Linked DNA regions of Homo sapiens: regions 1, 3 and 4 are each linked to region 2. Evidence: fine-mapped expression QTL. A gene starts in region 2. Each other region holds a variant in brackets. All regions are shown on one strand. Distances are between the middles of the regions. Region 1 has its middle 26 kb from the start of SLC17A3. Region 2 holds the start of TRIM38 (tripartite motif containing 38). Region 3 has its middle 14 kb from the start of H1-2. Region 4 has its middle 9.2 kb from the start of SLC17A2.

Evidence for each region. PIP is the estimated chance that this variant, and not a neighbour inherited with it, causes the effect.
Region 1: its variant is fine-mapped to the expression of TRIM38 in lung (TOPMed, PIP above 0.99).
Region 3: its variant is fine-mapped to the expression of TRIM38 in whole blood (TOPMed, PIP above 0.99). The same link has a PIP of 0.9 or more in T cells and blood mononuclear cells.
Region 4: its variant is fine-mapped to the expression of TRIM38 in lung (TOPMed, PIP 0.98).

Annotation. Positions count from the first base shown.
Region 1 is chr6:25,897,143-25,903,476 of GRCh38, reverse strand. No RefSeq gene overlaps it. Among named protein-coding and RNA genes, the nearest start is that of SLC17A3, 26 kb to the right of the region's middle. RefSeq lists an enhancer at 4,772-5,361. The variant T/C (reference allele first, on the strand shown) is at 2,812.
Region 2 is chr6:25,959,617-25,965,950 of GRCh38, reverse strand. It overlaps TRIM38 (tripartite motif containing 38), which reads right to left and starts at 3,149. Exons shown (of 8, transcript NM_006355.5): 1 at 3,096-3,149; 2 at 2,669-2,902.
Region 3 is chr6:26,067,332-26,073,665 of GRCh38, reverse strand. No RefSeq gene overlaps it. Among named protein-coding and RNA genes, the nearest start is that of H1-2, 14 kb to the right of the region's middle. The variant C/T (reference allele first, on the strand shown) is at 3,191.
Region 4 is chr6:25,936,695-25,943,028 of GRCh38, reverse strand. No RefSeq gene overlaps it. Among named protein-coding and RNA genes, the nearest start is that of SLC17A2, 9.2 kb to the right of the region's middle. The variant G/A (reference allele first, on the strand shown) is at 3,968.

The sequences.
Region 1 (6,334 bases), 62 kb after region 2:
CAGGCTGGAGTGCAGTGGCACAATCTCGGCTCACTGCAACCTCCGCCTCCCGGGTTCAAGCTATTCTCCTGCCTCAGCCTCCCAAGTAGCTGGGACTACAGGCGCTCACCACTATGCCCCACTAATTTTTGTATTTTTAGTATTGCTGTCATCAATCCACATGTCCAGAAGCACCTAGAAACTCTAATTCTTTGTAGGTATCAAACCCTAGGACTCTTTCCTCTAATCACAATATATAATCCCTGATTCCCAAACACGGTCTTTTCATATACATTTTCCACTGTACATACTTTCTGACCTGGAAAGCTCTTACACAAACACGCCCTCCCCTAGGAAGCCTTTATAAATGTTCCCAGGAAGAATCAGTCACCCAACAGTGTCCTTGTCACATCTTAGGTTCTACACCTTTATTTGTTCTATCTGAATGTAATCTCCCAGAGGGTGTTATCATCTTTTTTTTTGAGATGGAATCTTGCTTTGCTGCCCAGGCTGGAGTGCAGTGGCATGATCTCGGCTCACAGCAACCTCCACCTCCTGGGTTCAAGTGATTCTCCTGCCTCAGCCTCCTGAGTAGCTGGGATTACAGACGTGTGTCACCACACCTGGCTAATTTTTGTATTTTTAGTAGAGACAGGGTTTCACCGTGTTGGCAAGGCTTTCCTCGAACTCCCAAACTCAGGTGATCCACCCGCCTCAGCCTCCCAAAGTGCTGGGATTACAGGTGTGAGCCACCATGTCCAGCCCCATCTTTTTCTTTTAGTTTAGTTCTTAACAAATAGTCTGACACAAAGTGGATATAACAATATTTTGAATTATGAATAACTAAATGAATATTTCCAGATTTCCTGGTGCTCTCAAAGTTTTATGTTACAAAAGAAAAACAAGTCTAAAATACCTGCCTCAAGTTTTTATCTGTACTATGATTTCAAACCAAATAAAAAACAGGTGGGGTAAAAACTGAAACAGGAAATACATATAACTGAAAAATTTTGGTATGTTAGTATGATAATACTAGGTCATTTTTCCTGTTTCCCCAACTTCATTTTCTATAGCAATAAAAAGAAACAAGTAAATGTATATTAATTTAATTTAAAAGAAGTAGTCTACCATCTCTTCTGTTAAAAAGAAAAAAGTATTTTAAAAAATTATCTCTGGAAGGATACACAGGGAACATTGCTCTGGTTTCTTCCAAGAGAGAAATGAGGAACTAGAGAGCATGGCCAAGTGGGGTTTTGCTTTTGTTTTTGTTTGTCTATCTGTTAGCTTTTTATTATTTTCTTTTGTAGGTTTGAATTTCAAACCACATAAATCTGTTACATGCTCATAATAATAAGTTTAAAATAAAACTTTTGGCTGGGTGCAATGACTTACACCTGTAATCCCAGCGCTTTGGGAAGCAGAGGTGGGAGGATACTTGAGGCCAGGAATTTGAGATCAGCCTGGGCAACATAGTGAGACCCTGCCTCTGTAGAAATAAACAAAAATTAGCTGGATATGGTGGTGCATGCTTGTACTCCTAGCTACTTGGGAGGTTGAGGCAGGAGGATCCTTTGAGTCCAGGAGTTTGAGGCTGCAGTGAGCTATAATCACCCACTGCACTATAGCATGGGCAATAAGGTGAGAACTTGTCTCAAAAAAAAAAAAAGGGGGGGGGAAACAAATAAATAAATATAAACAAAACTTTTGTTTCAAAATATGTAATATTTAGCACTAAAGAATTCTGAATTGTAGAGCTAAAAAGTACTTAAAAGTTAATAACTATTGTCTCCTTTAAAAGAATTGTTATCAAAGTATAATTTTTATCCAGAAAATCATCCATATCAGCAAGCTAAACTTTCTCAAAATGACATATCCATGTAATTAGCTCCCAGGTAATTAGCAGGCAGCCTCTACTCAGGTTGAGTATTCCTAATCTAAAAATTGGAAATTCAAAATGCTCCAAAATCGGCAACTTTTTGAATGCTAACATGATTCTCAAAGGAGTGCTCATGGAATATTTCAGATTTTGGATTTTTGGATTTGAGATACTCAGTATAATGCAAACATTCCAAATCTGAAAAAATCTGAAATACTTCTGGTTCTAAGCATAAGGGATACTCAACGTGTGTTAGCTAATTAGACCCTTCATGGTCTCTTCTAGACCTCAGCTTCTTCAAGGTAACCTCTATCCTCACTTCTAATAGCATGAACTTTTCTGTTTTAGAATAATTTGGATTTTCAGGAAAGTTGCAAAGATAGTACAAAGACAGTACAGGAGAGTTCCCATATATCTTTCACCTAGCTTTCCCCCATTGTTAGGATTTTACATTATTATGATACATTTGTCAAATATAAGCAACTCACATTGATACATGAAACTCTATTAACCAAACCCTAGACTTTATGTGGATTTCACCACTGTTTCCACTAATGTTTTCTTTCTGTTCCAAGGTCCAATCTGGAATACCACACTGCATTTTCTTGTCATATCTCCCTAGTCTTTTTTTGTCTGTGACAATGTCTCAGTCTTTTCTTGCTTTTCATGACCTTAACAGTCCTGAAGATCATTTGCTTTTTTTTCATAATTACACCGGAGTTATAGATTTTTTGAAATAATACCACAAGGGCAAAGGGCCCTTCTTGTCACATCATTTTAGGGAGAACATGATATCCACATGACATCACTGATATTAACCTTCATCATGTGGTTTAGGTAATGTTTCAGGTTTCTCTACTGCAAAGTGATTTTTTTCCCTTAATTTAGCCCACCTGAACTTATCAATTTTGTTTTCTTCCATGACTAATACTTTTGTTATTATAGCTAAAACTTCA[T/C]TGGGGCCAAATCTTAGATCATGTAAATTTTCTTCTATATTTTATTCTAAAAGCTTGTAATGTTTGATACATTCTAAAAGATGTAATGTTTGATACATTACATCTAGTCCTTTGATTTATTTTTAGTTACTTTTGTATAAGGTGTGAGAGATGTCTCCAGTTTCACTTTATTAACACATTGTGGTGTTCCAGTACTATTTGTTGCTAAGACTATCTTTTTTCCATTGATTACCTTTGCCTTAGTTGGCAATATTTTTGTTGGTTTATTTCTAGACTGTTTATCTCATTCCACTGATTTGTGTCTATCTTTTTGACAAAACTGTTGATTACAGTAAGCTTTGAAATAGTTCATTTTTTGTGTCAACTTGACTGAGTCAGGGGATAACCAGCTATCTGGTTAAACATTATTTCTGGCTGTGTTTGTGAGCGTGTTTCTGGATGAGATTAGCCTTTGAATAGGTGATCCTAGTAAAGTAAACTGTCTTTCCCAGTGTGGATGGCATTATGCCACCTGATATTCAGGGTCTGAATAGAAGAAAAGGCAGAGGAAGGGGGAATTTGGGCCTTTTTTTCTGCCTCACTGCTTGAGCTGGGACATCTCATCTGGTCTCCTGCTCTTGAACTGGGATTTACATCATCAGTTCCTCTGGTTCTCAGGCCTTCAGATTCAGACTGAATCATACCACCAGCTTTCCTGGGTCTCCAGCTTGCAGATTACAGATCATGGGACTCCTCATCTTCCATAAATGCATGAGCCAATTCAGTCTATGTCCTTGAAAACTGCCCCACTGCAGATTAAGGCTTTTTTCCACTAGGTGAAATAAAGAAGCTTGTTAGACAGATTTCCCTTCATCCAGTGCCCTCTCCTCTTTAAGTTACAACACATTGGCTACACCTAAGTGCAGGGGTGGGGATGAGGGTATAGTCCTCTTGTTTGCTGAGAAGAGAACTGTATTGGGAAAGCTCTAGAAGTGTTTGATACATACATAAACAAGGCATGGTTTTTGCACTTAATTTCACATTACATTTTTCCCAGAAAAAAAGGAATGTATAGGCATCACGTAACTGTACTAGCTGGAGTCATTCTTCCTGATTATCAAAGGTAAACAGTTATTAATCCTATACCAAGATGTCAAGGAGAAGTACTTTTGGAACACAAGGAATTCTCTGGGAGTCCTTACTACTCTCAAGCCCAGTGAAAAAGTTAATGAAAAACTATAGTACCTTCCTATAAGCTGGATGACTAATTACCAGGCTCATTTAGGAATTTGCCTTACCAAGTAAAACATAAGGGCAGCTGAGGTGCTGACTGAAGACAAATGGAGCATAGAATAAGAGTAGTAAAGAATGCCAAAAATGCTGTCATGTATCCATTGACAAAAGGAGCTATAAAGCCTTTAGGTATTTTCACACTTGCTCTGTTACGTAAATGTATGTGTGTGTGTGTGTGTGTGTGTGTGTGTGATCGTTTATTTTTTCCTTCTTTCCCACTAAGATGTATTAATACTGATTAACACTATAAGTTAAGCTTATAGGATAGGCTATCAAAAAATGATTGTGACTGAGCTGAAAAGAACATTACTCAGGATGGATACAGTGAGTTTCAGATGTTTGTATTCTACTTGGGAGCTACAGACAATAAAAAAGTAAAAACATATACAGTTTGTCAGCTACTGATAAGTGCTATGGAAAAAATTAAAGAAGGAAACGGGGATAGGGTGGGATTAGGTGTGGTAGCCATTCTAACCTTGGTGCTGAAATCTATCAGTATTCTGTTCAGCGATCCACTGTCTGCTACCTGGCCATATCCCCCTGGGAAGTGTGAGCCACATTACTAGCTTCATGTGGTGAATTCTGACTGGTCCACACCAGTCATGTGGTCCCTTCTTCTGTAGCTGATTAGCTCAGGCAGCACCTGAGACTAGGCCAAGTTTTGGCAAATGAGACATAAGGGGGAGTTTTCTGGAAAGGCATTCCTTGATCTCCAAGAGAAACGCACTGTTTCTTCCTGCCTTTAACTTGTGTCTGCATGGACACTTGAAACTGTGACCAGCATGGGGGGTAAAGCCTGCTGTGAAGGAGAGCAGAGGCAAGAAGACTGAGGGCAGTGGAGCCAGAGCTCTGATCACCCTGCTCTGGAACCTTTCTGCCTTTGATGTCCTGTTTGGGGAGATAAGAAATTTATATAGTGTTTAAATTTGTTGAGTCAGCGTTTTCTGTACCTGCAGTCAAAAACATGCTGAGTGATTCAAGAAGTTGGTCAGAACTTCAAAAAATTATTATTCTACATTTTCCCCCAAGTTTTTCTGAGGAAAGAGAGTGCTTGGTAGGCAGGATAACCCTGGAAAGTGGCCATGGGGCTGAGGCGGGTTTTGGAGAAATGCAGACACTGTTGTCTGATGTGAGTTTCACCTGATGAGGGATCAGGATCTTCTTTCATATAATTTGGGAAAGCAGATGTTGGTCCCTTTAGATCTGTTAACTGACATTTAGCATTCAAAACTGTCTCGTGATTCACAGAAGTGTTGTAAGATATTATGCAGATTTTAGCACAGCATTCAACCATTCAATCAGATTTTTATAAAGACTTTTTTTTTTTTTTTTTTTTTTTTTTTTTGAGACGGAGTCTTGCTCTGTCGCCCAGGCTGGAGTGCAGTGGCGGGATCTCGGCTCACTGCAGCTCCGCTCCCGGGTCACGCCATTCTCCTGCCTCAGCCTCCCAAGTAGCTGGGACTACAGGCGCCCGCCACCTACGCCCGGCTAATTTTTTGTATTTTTAGTAGAGACGGGGTTTCACCGTTTTAGCCGGGATGGTCTCGATCTCCTGACCTCGTGATCCGCCCGCCTCGGCCTCCCAAAGTGCTGGGATTACAGGCGTGACCCCGCGCCCGGCCTTATAAAGACTTTTTAGATAAAAACAGAATCTATATCTCTAATGTATGTATTAAGGATGAACCCCGGCTGGGCGCAGTGGCTCACACCTGTAATCCCAGCACTTTGGGAGGCCGAGGCGGGTAGATCACTTGAGGTCAGGAGTTCGAGACCAGCCTGGCCAACACGGCGAAACCCTGTCTCTACTAAAAATACAAAAATTAGCTGGGCATGGTGGCAGGCACCTGTAATCCCAGCTGCTTGGGAGACTGAGGCAGGAGAATCGTTTGAACCTGGGACGTGGGGATTGCAGTGAGCCAAGACTGCACCACTGCACTCCAGCCTGGGCGACAGGGTGAGACAACGTCTCAAAAAATAAAAAATAAAATAAAATAAAAAATGAACCCCTCTCTGTCTTACTCTCTGAATGAGTGAGTCTGAAATCCAGTGGGTTTGGCCAAGCAAGGTAGATGTCTGTGTATATATGGGGGAAGGATGTTTAGTGACAGTTGCCTGGAGTGGAGTGAAGAAACCTAAGCAGAGTGAGAGAGAGGCAACAGTGGAGGCCCAGTGAGAGTACTGCAACTTGAATAGGGTGATGAAGCTGTCTTCAAAGGGGGACAAGAGAACAGCCCTGTGTTAATGTTGGAGC
Region 2 (6,334 bases):
CAGTCTTCTAACTTTTTTTTTTTTTTTTAATGAGACGGAGTCTCACTCTGTCACCCAGGCTGGAGTGCAGTGACGCTATCTCGGCTCACTGCACCTCCGCCTCCCGGGTTCAAGCGATTCTCCTGCCTCAGCCTCCCGAGTAGTAGCTGGGTCTACAGGTGTGCACCACTACGCCCAGCTAATTTTTGTATTTTTAGTAGAGATGGGGTTTCACCATGTTGGTTGGCTCGATCTCTTGACCTTGTGATCCACCCGCCTCAGCCTCCCAAAGTGCCAGGATTACAGGCATGAGCCACCGTGCCCAGCCTCTTTTTCTTTTCTTATAAGACAAGTTCTCGCTCTCTTGCCCAGGCTGTAGTGGAGGGCAGTGGCATGACCACAGCTCACTGCAGCCTCGACCTCCTGGGTTTAAGCAATCCTCCTGCCTCACCCTGGCAGAGTGGCTGGGACTACAGGTATGTGCCACCATGTCCAGCTAAAGTCTTCTCTCCAGAAAGAAGAAATGCATTGGAATTTAGAGGATACACAAACATCTAGCTGTATAGCTAATACAGTAGCCACTATCATGAGTAGGAATTTAAATTTAACTTAATAAAAATTAAAATGAAAAAATTCAGTTTTTCTGTTCCAGTTGCCACATTTTGATTGCTTAATAGTTGCATGTGACTAGTGGCTACATAACAGCCTCAATATACAACATTCTGTTATCACAGAAAGTTACCTTGGACCAAGTGCTGGGAGAAGCAATGCAGGCTTCCTCACAAAAGCTGTAAAAGAGAGAACTCAGGGAGTGTGAAACTCTTTCCTATTCTAGTTAACTTCAAGAATAATTGTTACCAGGCCAGCACGGTGGCTCACGCCTGTAATCCTAGCACTTTGGGAAGCCGAGGCGGGCAGATCACCTGAGGTCAGGAGTTTGAGACCAGCCTGACCAACATGGCAAAACCTCATCTCTACTAAAAATACAAAAAGTTAGCTAGATGTGGTGGTGCACACCTGTAATCCCAGCTGCTCAGGAGGCTGAGGAAGGAGAATGACTTGAGCTCCGGAGGGGGAGGTTGCAGTGAGCCCAGATTACACCACTGCACTCCAGCCTGGGTGAAAGAGCGAGAATCTGTCTTAAAAAAAAAAAAAAGAATAATTGGTACCAGAATTACTCTTTGTAATTAGTAGTAACACTTATGCAATTGGGTGATCTGTGACAGATTCCATTGAAGGAGTATGGGGAGCTTCACCCCAATATATGACTCCCTGGTATAATGAGTATTTTGAATTAAAGGCCCTTAGAGATCAGCAGATGCTGGAAGAGACTTTTCCCCTATCTACATAAAGACCAGTCACACTAGACAAGAAGAACAATTGTTTTTCCTTCCAACCCCTATTATCTCATTTTGTACTGAAGAAAAGAGGACTAAGAATGTAACCAGACCTAATCAGACACTTTCACAAAATAATGTCTGTCTCTCAGGCTCATTCATTTTCCAAAGAGAACCATTTACAAGTTAAACTCTGTTCCTCCATTCATTCATCCTCCCAAATATTCATTTATTCTCCCTAGTAATCATTTACTGCCCCTCAAAGAATTACCTATATTCTCCTGATATCACCCTTCCCCTCTGAAATAAATATGTATACATGTATAAACGTTATACATACATATTTATACAGTATACATACATATTTATACATACATACATATGCATACATATTTATATTTATGTATTTATACATAAGTATTTATAAATAAGGCTATATAAGTATCTACCCCCATTGGCAGAGGGGGTAATCACTCTGTGATTCTAGCCCATGTACTTGTTAATAAATTTGTATGCCTTTTCTCCAATTAGCCTGCCTTTTGTGAGTCGATTTTTCAGTGAACTTCAGAAGGCAAAGGGGAAGTGTTCCCTTGGCTCCTACACCATCATGACAATAAAATTTGACTCCACCTCGACCCCCCCCATCCCCCACAAAGAACAACAACCAACACTGGTTAATAAGGTCGGTTGTTTTTTGTTTGTGTTTTTGTTGTTGTTGTTTTTGCTTTCAGGAGCAGAGGTATAATAGGCAAAAGAAAGAGAAAGGAGAATAGTGAATACCTCTTCTGCAGAGAGGGGTGCCTAAGTGGGACTTCCCTGGCTAATAACGTCTTGCTAGAGACCCAACCAGGAGGATAATGGAAGCAATCAAGGCAACCAGAACAACCAGAAGAACCGGTTTATCCTTTTTGTGCCCTCTCCCTAAACTGAGGGAATAAGAATTGGAAAGAAGGCTGCAGAGCAGAGGGTTTGCTCCTGAGGAGCAGTTATTTCTATGGGATCAGAGCTCCTGCAGAACTGGGGAGTTTACTTTTACTATCTCTTCTCCAGGACAGGACCTATCTCAAGAGACATGTTCAGAGTGATTGCAACATAAAGAGTTTGCAGACCCAAGGAGGTAGGGAAGGCAGAAAGAAGATGGGGGAGGCCAGGGATAGGCAACAGAGGAGTGACCAGGAGCGAAAAAGCCTGCCTCTTCTGAGAACCTAGCTGGGCTCTCCCTGTACCCCCGATCCCTCCCCCCCGCCCGCCCCCACACCCCTACTCCTGGGAGCTCCTCTAGGACAGGGGCAGAGTCAGGAGGAAGTTTGAAGAGTGCCTAGAATAAAAAACAGTAATTTAACTACAATTACCGGGTAGGCTGTTTTCCTCTCACAATTTGATCAGTCTCTTGAAGCCACACAGAATTTCTTCTGAAGACGTGTATTCCTTGGCAGGCTATTTCCTCCAGTGATACACCAGGCCCCTCTCTGCTGGGGTCACTGCTCTTCTGGGGAGATGGGGCTCCCCTCCTTCCAAGGCTCCAGGGTTCCTGTCCTGGGCCCCACTCATCTAAGTTCTGAATCTTCTGAGATTTGGTGTAAAGTCTGGTGAAAGAAAGAGCAGGAAAGAGGTGAGAGCTGTAAAACAAAGAAAGTCCTGACCATTTTCAGAGTTGGAGGGGCCCTGCTGTCACGAAATATATTCCCCACCCCACTTGCCATCAGTACACACTCACATATCCACTGAGAAAACCTTAGCCTGGACCTTTTCCGTAACCTTCACTGCTCAGACACTTACATATTCGCTGCTAGTCCCCTCTGTTGCTGCCACTTCCTGGGTCAGGAAGTTAACTCAGACCGGATTAAACTGAGAAGTGAAACTACTGTGGGAGGCGGGGCTCATAAGATTTAGGAGAAAACTAGTGACGTTGTTCATATCATTTGCACTCCGCCTCTCCGGTAAAGGAGGGGGAAACGTAGGAAGAAAATATCCTTCTTTTACAGCAATAAAAAGAAGGAACCAATTAATAACCCTGTAAACTATCATGTGACCCCAACACAGAGTATCTAAAAACAGGAAGCCTGCAGAGGTTCAGTTCACAGACTCTGATTTGAGATCTTTCTACTTTTGCCACCAACTCCCTTGGGAGTCCTTAAGCCTTCCTAGCTGATGTTACTTCTTTTGCTATTTATGGGTTGCTTGTGGTTCTATAACTGCTCTGAAGGGTGTGGTGGAAAAAGGGGTGGTAACAGCAGTAGGACTCATTGGCATCACAAAATTCATCTGAGTCAGCTTTCTATTCTTCTCTGTCCCGTTCTGTGTCTTGTTTTTCTCCTTGCTGTCCTTCTGCAGGACTCAGATCTTCTTCAATAGCGAGGGTCAGCCAGGATAGAAAATGGGAGTCACTAGTGGCCCAGCAGTGAGTGCCCCCAGCTTAGAGCTGTGTGGGATCCCTGGGACCATCACTCTGCTTTGTGCTTTGTGGAGAAAAGGCTGTGGGGTCCAGGGTCAAGTCCTTAATGACTTAGCTCCAGCTTCTCCACTTCAAAATGAAAGGAAAAGTACTATCACCACCCGTTAGAATTATTATTTCATGGGGAAAAAAGATGGATTACTATCTCACAATAAGAGCTTGTCACATTTATAAGTCTCAGGTGTAAGAGGCATTTATGATAACAACATAATAAATGCTGGCTTAAGTAGATGCAGTGGTCCAAGGGAACCAGTAAGGGGAGCTCAGGACACAGGTGGGAGGAGAAATTAAACTTGAATTCTGGGAGCCACTGGCCTGTCTGGGCCCCTGGCCTGCCTGCTGACCCTGATAGCCAATGGAACATGGAGTTTGGCCCAGCTGCAATCCCTCTGGTCCAACTACTCAAAATAAAGGCAAGATTGGGAAACACGTTCCTTTCTTCCTATACCAAGCAGAAGACTCTTCAGCACTGCACCCTCCTGGGTGCTCACAGAGCCTTCTGTTGTTTTGCCACCTACGATTCATCATGCCCTGGCATGATGGTTGCAGACCCCATGCATAGCATGGGACATTCTACTCCTGAGGCAACCAGCACACAGAGAGAGGAGAAAGAATGAGCCCCTGAATCCTTGGTCCCACGATGAGTCCTTGCAGATATCTACAACTTTCATTGTTGTGGATGTGACTCTGTACCCAGGCATGGCTCATTCCAGATCTGTCCTATTGTCAGAGGTGTTCAAACCAGAATGACTCCATTTTGAATGGGGGCTAGGTAAAATAAGGCTGAGACCTACTGGGCTGCATTCCCAGGAAGTTAGGCATTGTAAGTCACAGGATGAAATAGGCAGTTGGCACAAGACACAGGTCATAAAGATCTTGCTGATAAAACAGGTTGCAGTAAAGAAGCTGACCAAAACCCACCAAAATCAAGATGGCAACAAGAGTGGCCTCTAGTCATTCTCATTGCTCATTATACACGAATTATAATGTGTTAGCAAGTTAGAAGGCATTCCCACCAGCTCCATAGTGGTTTATAAATACCATGGCGATGTCAGGAAGCTACCCTATATAGTCTAAAAAGGGGAGGAACGCTTGGTTCTGGGAATTGCCCACATCTTTCCCAGAAAACATATGAATAATCCACTCCTTGTTTAGTACATAATCAAGAAATAACTGTAAGTATCTGTATTAGTCCATTTTCACACTGCTGATCCAGACATACCTGAGACTGAGTAATTTATACCAGGAAAAAATGTTTCATGCTCTTACAGTCCCACGTGTCTGGGGAGACCTCACAACCACAGCAGAAGGCAAGGAGGAGCAAGTCAGGTCTTACATGGATGGCAGCAGGCAAAGAGCTTGTGCAGGGAAATTCCTTTCTATAAAACCATCAGGTCTCATGAAACTTATTGACTATCATGAGAACAGCAGTATAAATTACTCAGGGAAAGACCTGCCCCCATGATTCAATTACCTCCCACCAGGTCCCTCCCACAATATGTGGGAATTTAAGATGAGAGTTAGGTGGGGACACAGCCAAACCATATCAGTATCCTTAGTCCAGAAGCTGATGCTCTGCCTGTAGAGTAGCCGTTCTTTTATTCCTTTACTTTCTTGCTTTCACTTTACTGTGTAGACTTGCCCCAAATTCTTTCTCACACGAGATCTAAGAACCTTCTCTTAGGGTCTGGGTTGGGACCCCCTTTCTGGTAACACTATCAAAGGATCAGGAAAAGGAAGCTAGTGAATGCTAAAAAGGAAACAAACTACCATTACCAATAATAACAGCAAGACAAAAGCAAAACGGATTGTGACAGCTGTCCCATCTCACACCTGTTTCCCATTGCAGGAAGGAGGGGCTGGTTCATGCACAGAGTGGCCAATATTAGAAGCAGAGATGGGGTGCAGATGAGACTTCAGGAATATGTTGACAAAGGCAGGCCTAGGGAGAAATCAACCTGAACTATCCCCAAGGAGGAATGCATTATCTCTAATATGTAAAGTTAGGCTTGATCCTGTGATTATGGGATATAGGAGTCCAAAGACTCACAATGGGAAGTAGGTCACTAGAGTCTCCTTCAGAAGCTCTGTACTGTGTGTTCCCACTGTGGGCAAGAGTCAGCACTCAGCTATTCCTAGAATGCCTTTCCTCAACTCCTTCAGATTTTGCCTCTCAACTAACCCTATCCTGACCACTTGTTAGCAAGTGTACCCCTCTCTCCCTCCCAAACATTTTCAAATCTATTTTGTTCCCATGGCACTTATCACTGAATATTTTACTAATTTATTTTGTTTAGTGTTTGCTTCCCTCATGAGAATGCAAAGGGATGGATTTTTTTCAATATTGTTCACTGATGAATCCCAGTAACTAGAATATTTCTAAGCATAGTGATGTGCATTAAATCAAAGAGTAACTTTCTGAATTGCACTAAACACACATCACAAGAGGTGTGTGCACATATGTGCATGATGCACGTAGTGTGGTGTGGGTGTTGTGTGGGGTATGTGGTACTGTGTGTGCTGTGTGTGGTATGTGATACATAGTTTGTGTTAGTGTGATGCA
Region 3 (6,334 bases), 110 kb before region 2:
CTGCACAATATAGAGTTGGAAGCAATGGATTAGATGTCCACATAGTTACGTGGAAGAATCCGTAAGATACACACACACACACACACACACACACACCTTTGTGTATATTGTTCCTGGCAGGTAGGCATGGAGGTTTAGAGGCTTTCTACATCACACCTACTGCACACAGTAAATGGCCAGGCTGAGCACTGACTTCCATGAAGGGAGATTGAAGGTAAGAGATTGAAGATTGTTCCCTGGTCTGGGACCCTGCAACTGAATATGCAGAAAAAAGTACACCCCGCCACCCCGCTTCCCATCTTTCCTACCTGATTAGAATAGCTTTTTCAGAAAACGTTGGCCAGGGGTTGTGGCTCACACCTGTAATCCCAGCACTTTGGGAGGCTGAGGCGGGCAGATCATCTGAGGTCAGAAGTTCCAGACCAGCCTGGCCAACATGGCGAAACCCCATCTCTACTAAAAATATAAAAAATTAGCAGGGCATGGTGGCACACACCTGTCATCCCAGCTACTCGGGAGCCTGAGGCAGGAGACTCACTTGAAGCACAGTGATGGAGGTTGAAGTTAGCTGAGATCTTGCCACTGCACTCCAGCCTGGGCAACAGAGTGACACTTTGTCTCAACAACAACAACAAAACCCACCAAAACTTTAAATCTACCTATGGCCAAATGCCTGCTAAAATGAGCACCCAAGAAGCAGTGTTCAGGAAAGTCAGATGAATACCCTAAAATTAGATGCAATGTTGGCTGGTCACAGTGGCTCAGGCCCTGTAATCCCAATCCTTCTTGGGAGGCCGAGGCGACAGATCGCTTAAGCTCAGGAGATCGAGACCAGTCTGGACAACATGGTGAGACCGTGTCTCTACAAAAACGTACAAAAATGAGCTGGGAGTGGTGGCGCGCACCTGTAGTCCCAGCTACTCAGGAAGCTGAGGTGGGAGGATCTCTTGAACCCAGAAGGCGGAGACTGCAGTGAGCAGAGATCATGCCACTACACCCCAGCCTGGATGATAGAGCCAGACCCCCATCTCCAGAAAAAAAAAATAAAGAGAGAGAGAGATGCAATATTTAGGGTTCAACAAGACTGAATTTCTGACTCCTTTCCCTACCTCTCCAGCATGTTAGATTCTGGGTCCTTCATCCTAACCCCCTGTTCATGCCATAGCCACCCTGTGGTACCAACTTTGGAAGCCTGGATCTTCATCCCCTCATGATAATGAGTGTCCCATCAGGTCTCCATGCTCAGCTTGGCAAGAGTATCTGTCTTCTCCTCATGGGACGGTCACATTCACCCAGCACTGACAGGTTCCATTCCCACTAGGGTGGCACCCTATATGGTCTGAGTCCAGGCCTTCCTGGTCCCTCAGTAATCTCAGCATGGTAGCACAATCGAAAAGGGCTAGGCACGGCAGCACCATTTCCCACCAAGAGGTCTGATGGCTCATCACATAGACTGAAGGAGATTCTGAAGAGCAGAGGTGGAATGAAGAATGAATCGTGGGCTCTGCTCTTCCTAGGCCTGTCTTCCTCTCTCCCGAGATGTTAGCTAACTCATGAGAGCCAGAAACCAACTGCAGGCTGGCCTCAGGCACTTAGGTAGTGCTTCAGCCTCAGCAGTCCACATTCTAGGAACCCTCATAATATGGGTTGAAGTATGCATTCCCACAAAAATAAAGTTGTTGAAGTCCTAACCACCAGTACTGAAATGGGAAAAGTTCCCTTGTCCCGCTCGCATGGCATGTGATAGGAGTGTGGCTAATTTCTTCAGTGCCTGGCTGCTCAAACCTCTAGGGGAACATTAAGACGGGCAGGTTGTGGGTCTCCAACCCCATGACCCCACCACAGTGTCTAGGGTTGAATGTTTACAGCTCCTGAAGCCACAGTGGGTGTGTGTTACAGGGTGCTCTTTTAGTTTTGCCATTTATAGGCAGCTGGTGTTAACCAACTCAATTAGACCGTCTACCTTGTCCCAAGGACAGAAGAAGGCTTTCTGTATCCCAGGTTCTTGCCTTGGTGTACCGGAATAAATCAGACCACACCTGGGCTTAGAGAAAGAGTGCAAGGTTTTATTAAGTGGAGGTAGCTCTCAGCAGTTGGGCAAAGCCAAAAGTGGATGGAGTGGGAAAGTTTTCCCTTGGAGTCAGCCACTCAGTGGCCCAGGCTCTCCTCCAACCACCCCAGTCAAATTCCGCCTCATTTTGCCAGGCAAACGTTTGTTGTGTGCTCTTCTGCCAGTGTGCTCCCCTGGACGTCCAGCTATTCGTGTCTTGTGGCAGGCCAGGGGAGGTCTTGGGAAATGCAACATTTGGGCAGGAAAACAAAAATGCCTGTCCTCACCGTGGTCCCTGGGCACAGGCCTGGGGGTGGAGCCCTAGCCGGGGACCACGCCCTTCCCTTCCCCACTTCCATATCATTTAAAGGGACCATGCCCTTCCCTTCCCAGCACTTTCCCCCTCCTGTATCAGGACCTGTGAATGTGGCCTTATTTGGAAATAGGGTCTTTGCACTTCATCAGTTAAGATAAGAGTGGGCTCTAACCCAACATAAAGGGTGTCCTTATAAAAAGGAGAAATGTCATACACAGAGACTGACACCTATAGAGAGAAAATGTGGTGAGTAGACACAGGGAGAATCACCATTCAAGTCAAGCAATGAGTCTGGGGATACCAGAAGCTGGGAGAGAAACCTGGAACAGATTATCCCTCATTGCCTTCAGAAGGAATCAAACCTGATGATACTTTGATTTCAGACTTCCAGCTTCCAGGACTGTGTGACGATAAATATCTGTTGTTAAGCCAACGAGTTTGAGGTACTTTGTTACTGCAGCCCCAGAAAACTAATACAGTAGGTACTATGGACTGAATTGACTCCCCGTCGCAAAATTCATATGTTGAAACCCTAACCCCCAGTGTGATGGTACTTGGAGCTGGGGCGTTTGGGAAGTCATTATATTTAGACAAACTCATCAGGATGTGTCTCTCATGATGAAATTCATGCCCTTATTAAAAGAGACAACAGGCCAGGTGCAGTGGCTCATGCCTGTAATCCCAGCACTTTGGGAGGCTGAGGTGGATGGATCACCTGAGGTTGGGAGTTTGAGACCAGCCTGGCCAACATGGTAAAACCCCATGTCTACTAAAAATACAAAAATTGGCCAGGTGTGGTGGTGCACGCTTGTACTCCCAGCTAC[C/T]TGGGAGGCTGAGGCAGGAGAATCCCTTGAAACCAGGAGGTGGAAGTTGCAGTGAGATCACACCACTGTACTCTAGCCTGGGTGATAGAGACTCCATCTCAAAAAAAAAAAAAAAAAAGACAATAGAGCCAGGTGCTGCAGCTGATGCCTGTAATTCCAACACTATGAGAGGCTGAAGCAGGAGGCTCGCTTTAGCCCAGGAGTTCAAGACCAGCTTGGACAAAATAGTGAGACCCCCAACTTCTAAAAATTTAAAAAATGAACTGGGTGTGGTGGTACACATCTGAGGCTCCAGCTACTCTGGAGGCTGAGGTGGGAGGATTGCTTGAGCCCAGGAGGAGGCTGCAGTGAGCCATTGCTGTCCAGCCTGGGCTACACGAGAACCTGTCTCGGGAAAAGGAGAAAACAGTGAGACCTCTTTTTCTCTCCTCCTTCTCTCCACTGCCTAAGCCCTACAAGCACAAAAAGGACACCACATGAGCACATAGTGAGAATGCTGCTGCCACCAACAAGTCAGGAAGAGAGCGTTCACCTAGAAACTGAATTGGCCAGCACCTGGATCTTGGACTTCTGAGCTTCCAGAACTGTGAGAAAGTTATTTTTTTTTTAGCGACTAAGTCTATAGTATTTTATTACAGCAGCTCAAGGTAACTAACATAGTAGAAGGGATGAATTATGGAGATCACAAGTCCACGCCTCCAGAAAAAGACTTCCCTAAAAATTAGTCTGAGCAAAATTCGAATGATGAATTATTTTTAAGAACTTTTAAGGGATCTGACAAGTTTGCAAGAGCTAGAGAATGCTTTACAACGTGATAATAGAATGCTCTGTGATGACAGAAATCTTTCCACACTGTTCAAAACTAGCTACTGGCCACTTGTGACTATTGTGCACTTGAAATGTGACTGGTGTCTGAGGAGCAGAATGTTTAATTTTACTTAATTTTAATTCATTACAATAGCTACATGTAGCTAGGGGCTACTGGATTGAACAGCACAGCTCGAGTCTTTTAGAGGGAGACAGGACTCACCAAGATGGATGCTGGTGGCCAAGCAGCAATGGCAGGTAGTACACACACAAGAGGCAGATGATACAACACATCCTTCCCAAACCTGGAGATAAGCTCACCCCACAATCCCGCCGCTGAAATAGAGTTGATGTTACCAATGTGCATTTTTATGTCCTTTTCCATACAGAAAGATCATTCAGCAAGTACTATGGTACTTAAAAAACAACATTCAATTCATTATTATGACAAAATTAAATTAATAGCTCTTCCTTAAACTTTTAAATTCAATTTACAATGCTTACTATTGGCATTTATTAATCTACCAATTTTTTCCCATAGAACCCATAGAACAAATAATCTACCAAATTTTTAACATTCATTTTTGGCAAGGCTTTTGCAATTTGACGAACTTTAAGAAGAAAACTTATAAATTGCAATTTTTAAATCTGACATACTGGACTTTTAAAGTATCCAATTGACTAATGAACAAAACTGCTCCAAATTTTTCAATTCTTAAAAATCTTAAGACAATACTTAATATGGCAAATCTTAACTTCTTAAACTTTGTAAGAATGCTAATCAACTTAGATTGGTATAAAGTTGAGTTAAAAATCACAGGATACATCATCTCAGCTATAAGTTTTCATGAGTTGAGTTTTTACAATCACTTGAAATGCTTAGAATAGGAAATACGTATAAATTATTTAACATAAAATATTGTTACAAAACCTCTGGAGTGTCAGTTTCTCTGGCCAGACTTTATGCTGCAGCACCTTTGCCTGAGTTCTTGTCCTGCATCCAGGAAGAATTAGGTACAGAGGCAAGAGTCAAGAAGATTAGTTTTCCAATAGTTCAGCTCACCTAGTTAACTCCTGTTCACAATCTTCAAAGTTATCAGAAACCTGCAATTGAGGGTTATAATCCATTCTTTGCAGAGTTTCAAAACAAGACAACATTTGTCTATGAATGTTAAAATGTCCTAGGGTAGTCACAGTCAAAAACACAATTGACAAAGAAATTTAGTCACCTCTGTGATTTACAATAGCCTAACACAATAACTCTAATTATAACTGATGACACAAACTCAGATATCAGAACTCTAGAAATCCCCTATAATTTTGGAACACACATTCACAGTTTTCACTGAAATATGACCTGAAGATCAAATATCACCTTATTTCAACAATCCTATATAACTAAACGTGTCAAATGATCCTGTTTACCTCTCCTTTGGATACTCCAGGGGCCCTCTGTAGCATCCAAAAGTTAGGGGTTAGCAAAGACAATTTTGAAGCTGTAAAGGCTCAAAACACTTAATGAACCTCTAGTCATATCTGTTCTCTACTCACTAAATGCTAGTAGCACCTCTCAGTTGTGGCTAAGCTGGGAGGATCTCTTGAGCCTAGAAGTTTGGGGACGCAGTGAGCTATGATTATGCCACTGCACTCCAGCCTGGGCAACAATGCAAAATCCTGTCTCAAAAACAAAAACAAAAAACAAATTGCCTATGCTGTGGTTATCTCACAATTAATAAAAAGGAAAAAAAAAGTATGCAGTCTTTGTAGGTCCTTGGGGTTTGTTGGAACTCAGAAAACAATACCCCAAAATAAAGACCGCAGAAGCCAAAGTTTTTCTCTGATCTTCTCCTGCCCTCCTGTCTCTGAGTCCCATTCTCCCCGGAGTCTAGCCATAGAAATGAGAATTCCTCTTCCTCAAGTTAGGTCATAGAAATCAAAACACCTTTTCCCCAGAGCCCAGCCATAAAACCTAAAAATATTACTCTAACTTTCCCTCTGTTTTTCTGTGTAAAAACTGGCCATAAAGAAATTATCTGAACTACCTTATTTGATCATAGATCACCAGACCGCATTCCAGAGAGGATCCAGAAGGAAGGAATGCTGCACAGAGAGGCGAAGAAGAATCTAGACAGACAGGCCTTGCTGGGTTTCCCTACTCTGTTTATTAGCAATCCTATTTCTACACGGCGGCCCATACTTTGTTGAATCTAAAAAATAAAAATGGACAATTTCCCCTGTACATGTTAATACACATTAATAAATTGGATATAAATTGGATAATTTATTAATATACACATTAATAAATTGGATGCAGCCGGGTGCAATGGCTCACGCCTG
Region 4 (6,334 bases), 23 kb after region 2:
ACTCTGAGTGGAAAGGGCAGGGGTGGAGAAAGCATTCAACAATTTGCCATAATTATAATGCTTTTTGTTACACTGTTTTCTTCTGCATTAAAAAATATCATTACATTTTGCATGAATTATTAGGAGAAAATATTTTCCAATTTTCCTGGAAAATGCCATAACCACGTCTCTCAATTTTGTTTCCATCTTTCTTCCACATTTTACATAACCTACATAAGAGACACATTATCAAGTATATTTTACATGGCTTCTCAGTGTCTTCTCTGTCTGCTAACAGGTTTACCAAGAGATGGCACTCTTGTATTTCTGGTGGCTATGTCCATATCGTTTTGCCTTTAAGACAGCGTAACTACTTCTTTCACCAGTATTAAAGACATGTACATTTGATCTGGTTCTTGTGGATGATTTTAAATGACTCAAGCTAATAATCCTAATTTTACCTAAACACTCCATTATTTTAAAATGTATTCCTTTATGCCCACAATAAACATTTATTGACATTAGGCTGGACATTAGGCTTCTCTATGGCAGACATTAGGCTGGACCCTAGCCATATATCTATTGAGGGAAAAAAAATTATTTTCTATATAAGTTTCCAGAAAGCCAAGATGTGTTTTAAAAACAAAACAAAACATTACATTCTAAATGCTGTAACAAGATAAGAAAAAGTGTTGAGGCTGAGAGAAGAACAAAGCAGCAAGCAACTCCTGGAAGGACCACTGCTGCAGAGGTAATAACTGGTGAACCATGTTTTGGAGAAGGAAAAGGTCACCAAGAGAAGGAGGGGGTCCAGGGTGTTCAGAAAGATTGCATGCATAAAGATCAAGGGTAATAAAAAAAATTCCGTATTATGTAAATGTGAAGTTCCAGGACCATGAGCTTGGAGAGCATGAAGTACAGGAGGAGGGTTGGTTTCAAATAAATCTGGGAATGAAACAGTGAAGCCTCTGGCAGAACTCACATCTCTTTCCTCCCCTCTTCCTTGCACATTCCCTTTATGGAGTAATTGCAGGGATGGGAAAAGTTCAAAACCACCACTGAGCCTAGGAAGTGCTAGGGTAAAGTGGAGAATGAACCTGCGTGATTTGCTCATCCTAAACTAGGTTCTTCTAGGAGAGCCCTTCCCCATAAAATCTGCCCTCCTCGAAGGGGCCCAGACAGCCTAAGCTCACCTCCCAAAGACCCCTTACTTGCTGACTGAATCTGATTCCACCCAGACATGGCCTAAAACCCTTCCATAACTCTATAGCCAAATTCAATTTTAGACAGGCCTCATACCAACCTTTCTTCCTCTAAGTCTGCCACCCTAGGCAATTCTCAACATTCTCTACACACTTTGGGGCCATAGACGTGCTACCAAGTCTCCAGACCTAGACCTGATGGAGCAGTGCTGTAATGAGACGACCACTGGCCTTTGAACCAGACCCTTCTCTGTGGCTCCTATGCATCTCCAACCTGTTTTGAGCACTGCTGCCAAGACATCTTTGGCACTTTGTTGTGAAGTTTTAAAACTGAACTAATCTACAAAACACCTAACCTTTAAAAATTCATTGTCATTTCATATCATGAAAGATAAAGAAAGGCCAGGAAACTGTTCCAGGTTAATAGAGACTAAAGAGATAGCAACCAAATGCAATTTGTGATCCTGGATTGAGGGGAAAAAGTGTTGTCAGAGACATGATTGGGACAGCTGGTAAAATTTGAATTTGAATTTAAAGATAAAGTATTGAGTAATATAGGAAGATGATTATCTGCAACTTTCAAATGTTTCAGTAAGTATATATATATATAAAGAGATATAAAGACATATAAATAAATGGATAGGTAGAGAAAAAGCAAATGTATAATATTAACAATCTAGGTAAAAAGTATATGAGTGTTCTTTGTACTGTTTTTCTGATTTTTCTATATGTTTGAAATCATTTTAAAATAAGAAGGTTTTTGGGTTTTTTTTGTTTGTTTTTTGTTTTTAGAGACAGCATCTTATTCTGTCACCAGGCTGTAGCTCAGTGGCCCAATCATTGCTCACTGCAGCCTCAACTTCCTGGGCTCCAGTAATTCCCCCTACCTCAGGCTCATGAGTAGCTGGTACTTCAGGTGTGCACCACTGCACTCAGCTAATTTTTATTTTTTAAATTTTTGTAGAGATGGCATGTTGCTATGTCACCCAGGCTAGTCTCAAACTCCTGCCCCCAAGTGATCCTCCCACTTTGGCCTCCCAAAGTGCTAGAATTATAGGCATGAGCCACTGCACCCAGCCCCAAATAAAAAAGTATTTTATTTTAATTAACTAATTAACTTTGAGTCAGAGTTTCACCCTTGTCACCCAGGCTGGAGTGCAATGGCATGATGTTGGCTCACTGCAAACTCTGCCTCCTGTGTTTAAGCGATTCTCTTGCCTCAGACTCCTGAGTAGCTGAGATTACAGGTGCCTGCCACCATGCCCAGCTAATTTTTATATTTTTAGTAGAGACGGGGTTTCAGCATGTTGGTCAAGCTTGTCTCAAACTCCTGACCTCAGGTGATCCACCCACCTCCGCCTCCGAAAGTGTTGATGAGCCACCACACCCGGTCTAAAAAGTATTTTAAAACCACAGTCCCACTCTACCTTGTCCTACACTACCAGGGGCTAGGATCACCCCATGTCTTCTAGGCTATGAGATAGAGGAATCCAAGGAAGAAGATAAGCTACTTGGTTCCTCTATAGGGTCTTGTGTGTGCTCTCATGTGCTCTCTCTCTCTCTCTCTCTCTCACACACACACACACACACACACACACACACATGAATACCAGAGCTATCACTTTCCCAGTCTAGTACTCATCTCATCCCAAGGGTTTTGTGTTGTAGTGGTTTGCTCATTTCTTTGTTTTGTTTGTTTGCTTGGATTATTCTTTTTCTCTTTTTGCAGCTGAAGGGAGAATTTCCAGGCCAGCCCTTTGGCCATTAGAGTTACAGTGCCTCTATTCAGGCTTCATAGAGAGACCTGGGATTCAGTAGTGGGGGGCTTTTATCCAGTTCAAAATAATGCATTCTCACCAAGATGTACTTTGAAATAAAACAATACTAAAACACAAAATTTTATTTATGCTGAACATTGAATCACTTTTTTCTGTATTTTGTGTAGAAAGTTATACACACACAAACACATTTGCTCCTGCTTTGTTTATTGGCCCAGGGGTATGTTTGGTAATACTTCATCAGGCATGAGTAGTACGTCTTGGAAGGTGTGGTCTAAAGCCTAGACTCCTATCTGCTTCCTTCAGCATTCTCCAGTGTATCTGTCATCTGTCTACCTTAGGATAGGGGTCTCCAGAACTTCCATTCACATTTAGAAGAGGGCAGCGGCTTTCTATGGAAAATATGAACTCTCATTCATCTCTATTCCTTCTTCTAGCTATGGTCCAGCTCAGCTGTTTGGAATAAAGTATCTATATGAAGTCTGCGAATGGTTCTCAGACTGGTTGAACATTAGAATCACCTGAGTACCTTCTAAAATTCTTATTACCCAGGGCATATCTCAGAATGAGTACCGCAGGGTAGGGATAGGATTAGGGATCATGATCTCTGGAGTCTGGTTTAGGCACTAGTGCTGTTTAAAACTACGTTCATGAGGTGGAGGTTGCAGTGAGCCGAGATGGCGCCACTGCACTCCAACCTGGGCGACAGAGTGAGAGTCTGTCTCAACAAAACAAAACAAAAAAAACCAACTACCCTTGTGATTTGAATGTCCATCCAAAATTGAGAACCATTAGGTAAGGCCAAGCTGTATAATTAAAGAGCAGTTTTCATTTGTCTGGTGTGGTGGCAGCTTTTTGATAAGGGAAGTATTGTTGCCATCCACATACCTGAGCCTCACTCCTGAGAACACTGGTGTGTATGTTGCTAAAATTCCCCAGGTGATTCTGAGGTTCCTTCCTGGATAAAAACCACTGACCCTGGGAATGTACCCACTGCCAATCTCCTGC[G/A]TAAACCTTGGATACTGGGAAGCCTACAGTTGAAAATATTGGGCTTGAGATCCTGAAACAAATCTTGTATTTCATTAAGACTAATATTTGGTACAGTGCAGCAAATCAAGGGAATTTTGGTGGCTGAGTTCTTTTAGAACTTTTGCATTGAAATAGGTTCAAGCAGCAATAAGTTAAAACTACAACCTCAGCTAAAGGATTAAAAGACACGTGAGCTGGGTAGGATGAGGTCTAAGGTTGGGTGTGGCGGCTCATACCTGTAATCCCAGCACTTTGGGAGACTGAGGTGGGTGGATCACTTGAGGTCAGGAGTTCAAAACCAGCCTGGCCAACATGGTGAAAACCCATCTCTACTAAGAATACAAAAAAATTAGCTGGGCGAGGTGCCAGGCACCTGTAATCCCAGCTACTGGGGAGGCTGAGGGAGGACAATCACTTGAACTCAGGAGGCAGAGGTTGTAGTGAGCTGAGATCGCACCACTGCACTCCAGCCTGGGTGACAGAGCAAGACTCCATTTAAAAAAAAAATAATAATAATAACAATAATAATAATTCAGACATATCCAGGCATCAAACAGATACCTGGGGCAGATGAATAGTCTTGAGATTCAAGTCACACATGAAATTTAGGTGGAAAATGACATTGGAGAAATTTGAGATTATGATGAATGGAAATTTTTCAAAGAGGAATTTCAGGCTCTGTTCTTGAGGGGATAGATGGACTTCCAACAGCAATAACACAGGATTAATGAGGACTTGGGATGTTACATAAATTAGAGATGTTAGATGGATAAAGAGATAAAAGTACTCTCTCTAAGAACATGGGACCAGAGATAGGCTCACTTCTAACCATCAGATATAACTAGCAGACTAAACGGTCTAAAAATAAAAATCATGCCCCACTCCTGCTTAAGACATTTTAATTACTCTCAGTAACTCTTCAGTTTTTCTACTGTGTTATCTTTAACTACAGGGTTGGTCTGGGTGTGCAACACAAGAAAGCCTGGCATATACATGGATTCAAGTGTATGCCATGTGCAGGTATTCTTTCATGTACTATTTCATGTATTCTTTTTCACATCTGTTTTTTCCTTCATTGAAGTCAATGGCTGATATTAGATTCTACTATTCATGTGTACTAGTTATATATAATTGTTACAAAACAAATTAGCAAAAACTTAGTGGCTTAAAGCAACACACATTTATTATTACCTAAGGTCTGTGGATAGAAGTTCTGACATGGCTTAACTGGGTTCCCTGCTTCAAGCCTCATGTGGCTGCAATCCAGGTGTTGGCTGAGTCTGAATTCTCATCAGAGGCTTGATTGTGGAAATTTCCACTTCCAAGCTCCCTCAGGTTTGTTGAAAAATTCAGTTCTTTGCACCGGTAGAAGCTTCTTGGTAGAGGCTGATTCAACTTCTAGAGGCTGTCTGCAGTTCCTGTCACCCAGGGTGGAGTGCAGTGGAGCAATCATAGCTCACTGCAGCCTTGACCTCCCAGAATCAATCTGTTCTCCCACCTCAGCATCCTGAGTAGCTGGGACCACAAGTGTGTGCCATCACACCTGCCTAAAAAACAAACAAACGAAAAAAAACCCCCAGAGAACTTTGTAGAGACAAGCTGGTCTGGAACTCCTGCGCTCAAGCAATTCTCCTGCCTTAGCCTAAAAGTTCTGGGATTATAGGTATAAGCCACCATACCTGGCATATGGCAAGTCTTGAGCAGGACAAATACAGATGATTTATGTCTGTCTTCCATGGTATTCTAGGTTATTGTTGAGATGGTCCTCTATTGTCTTGTTCCATCTATTGATTAGATAAAACGTTGTTCCTTCTGTTATTTTTCAACAGTAGCTTTTATGTGTCTCTCTTTATCTTAAAATTCTAACCAAAGAGCTGCTCTTTTCTTGGTGTACTTTACCTTTGGTTGATCCTTCTTAACCTCTTCTTGCCCTCTGGGGCCTAAGATGAGGGCTGTTATCAGATGTGAGTCTATGGGAAAGCAAGCAAGAGGTTCTTCAGCCTCCGTTCAGCCTTAAATGTCTAGGTAGAAATCAGTCATGGCCCTTCCAATGTGGTACAGACCAGATCACAGAGACAGGGGTCTCAGCCAAGGTCTTGTGGCCTAAGCCTTATAGAAATAATGAGTGTTTACTTACTTGGAGAACTCCCTTGGAATATCTTTTTTTGTGAACCTGAGGCAACTTTTGGTGATTTCTTGATGTCTTGGGAATCTTGGTCTAGAGCCATTTCAACCCGATTTCTTTTCATGTCAGTGGCATTTTGTGACCAGATAGTAAATAAGTTCTATGATGTTCACTCAGAGAAATACAATGACTTATGATGCGAAGCTTCTGTGGTTCAGCCC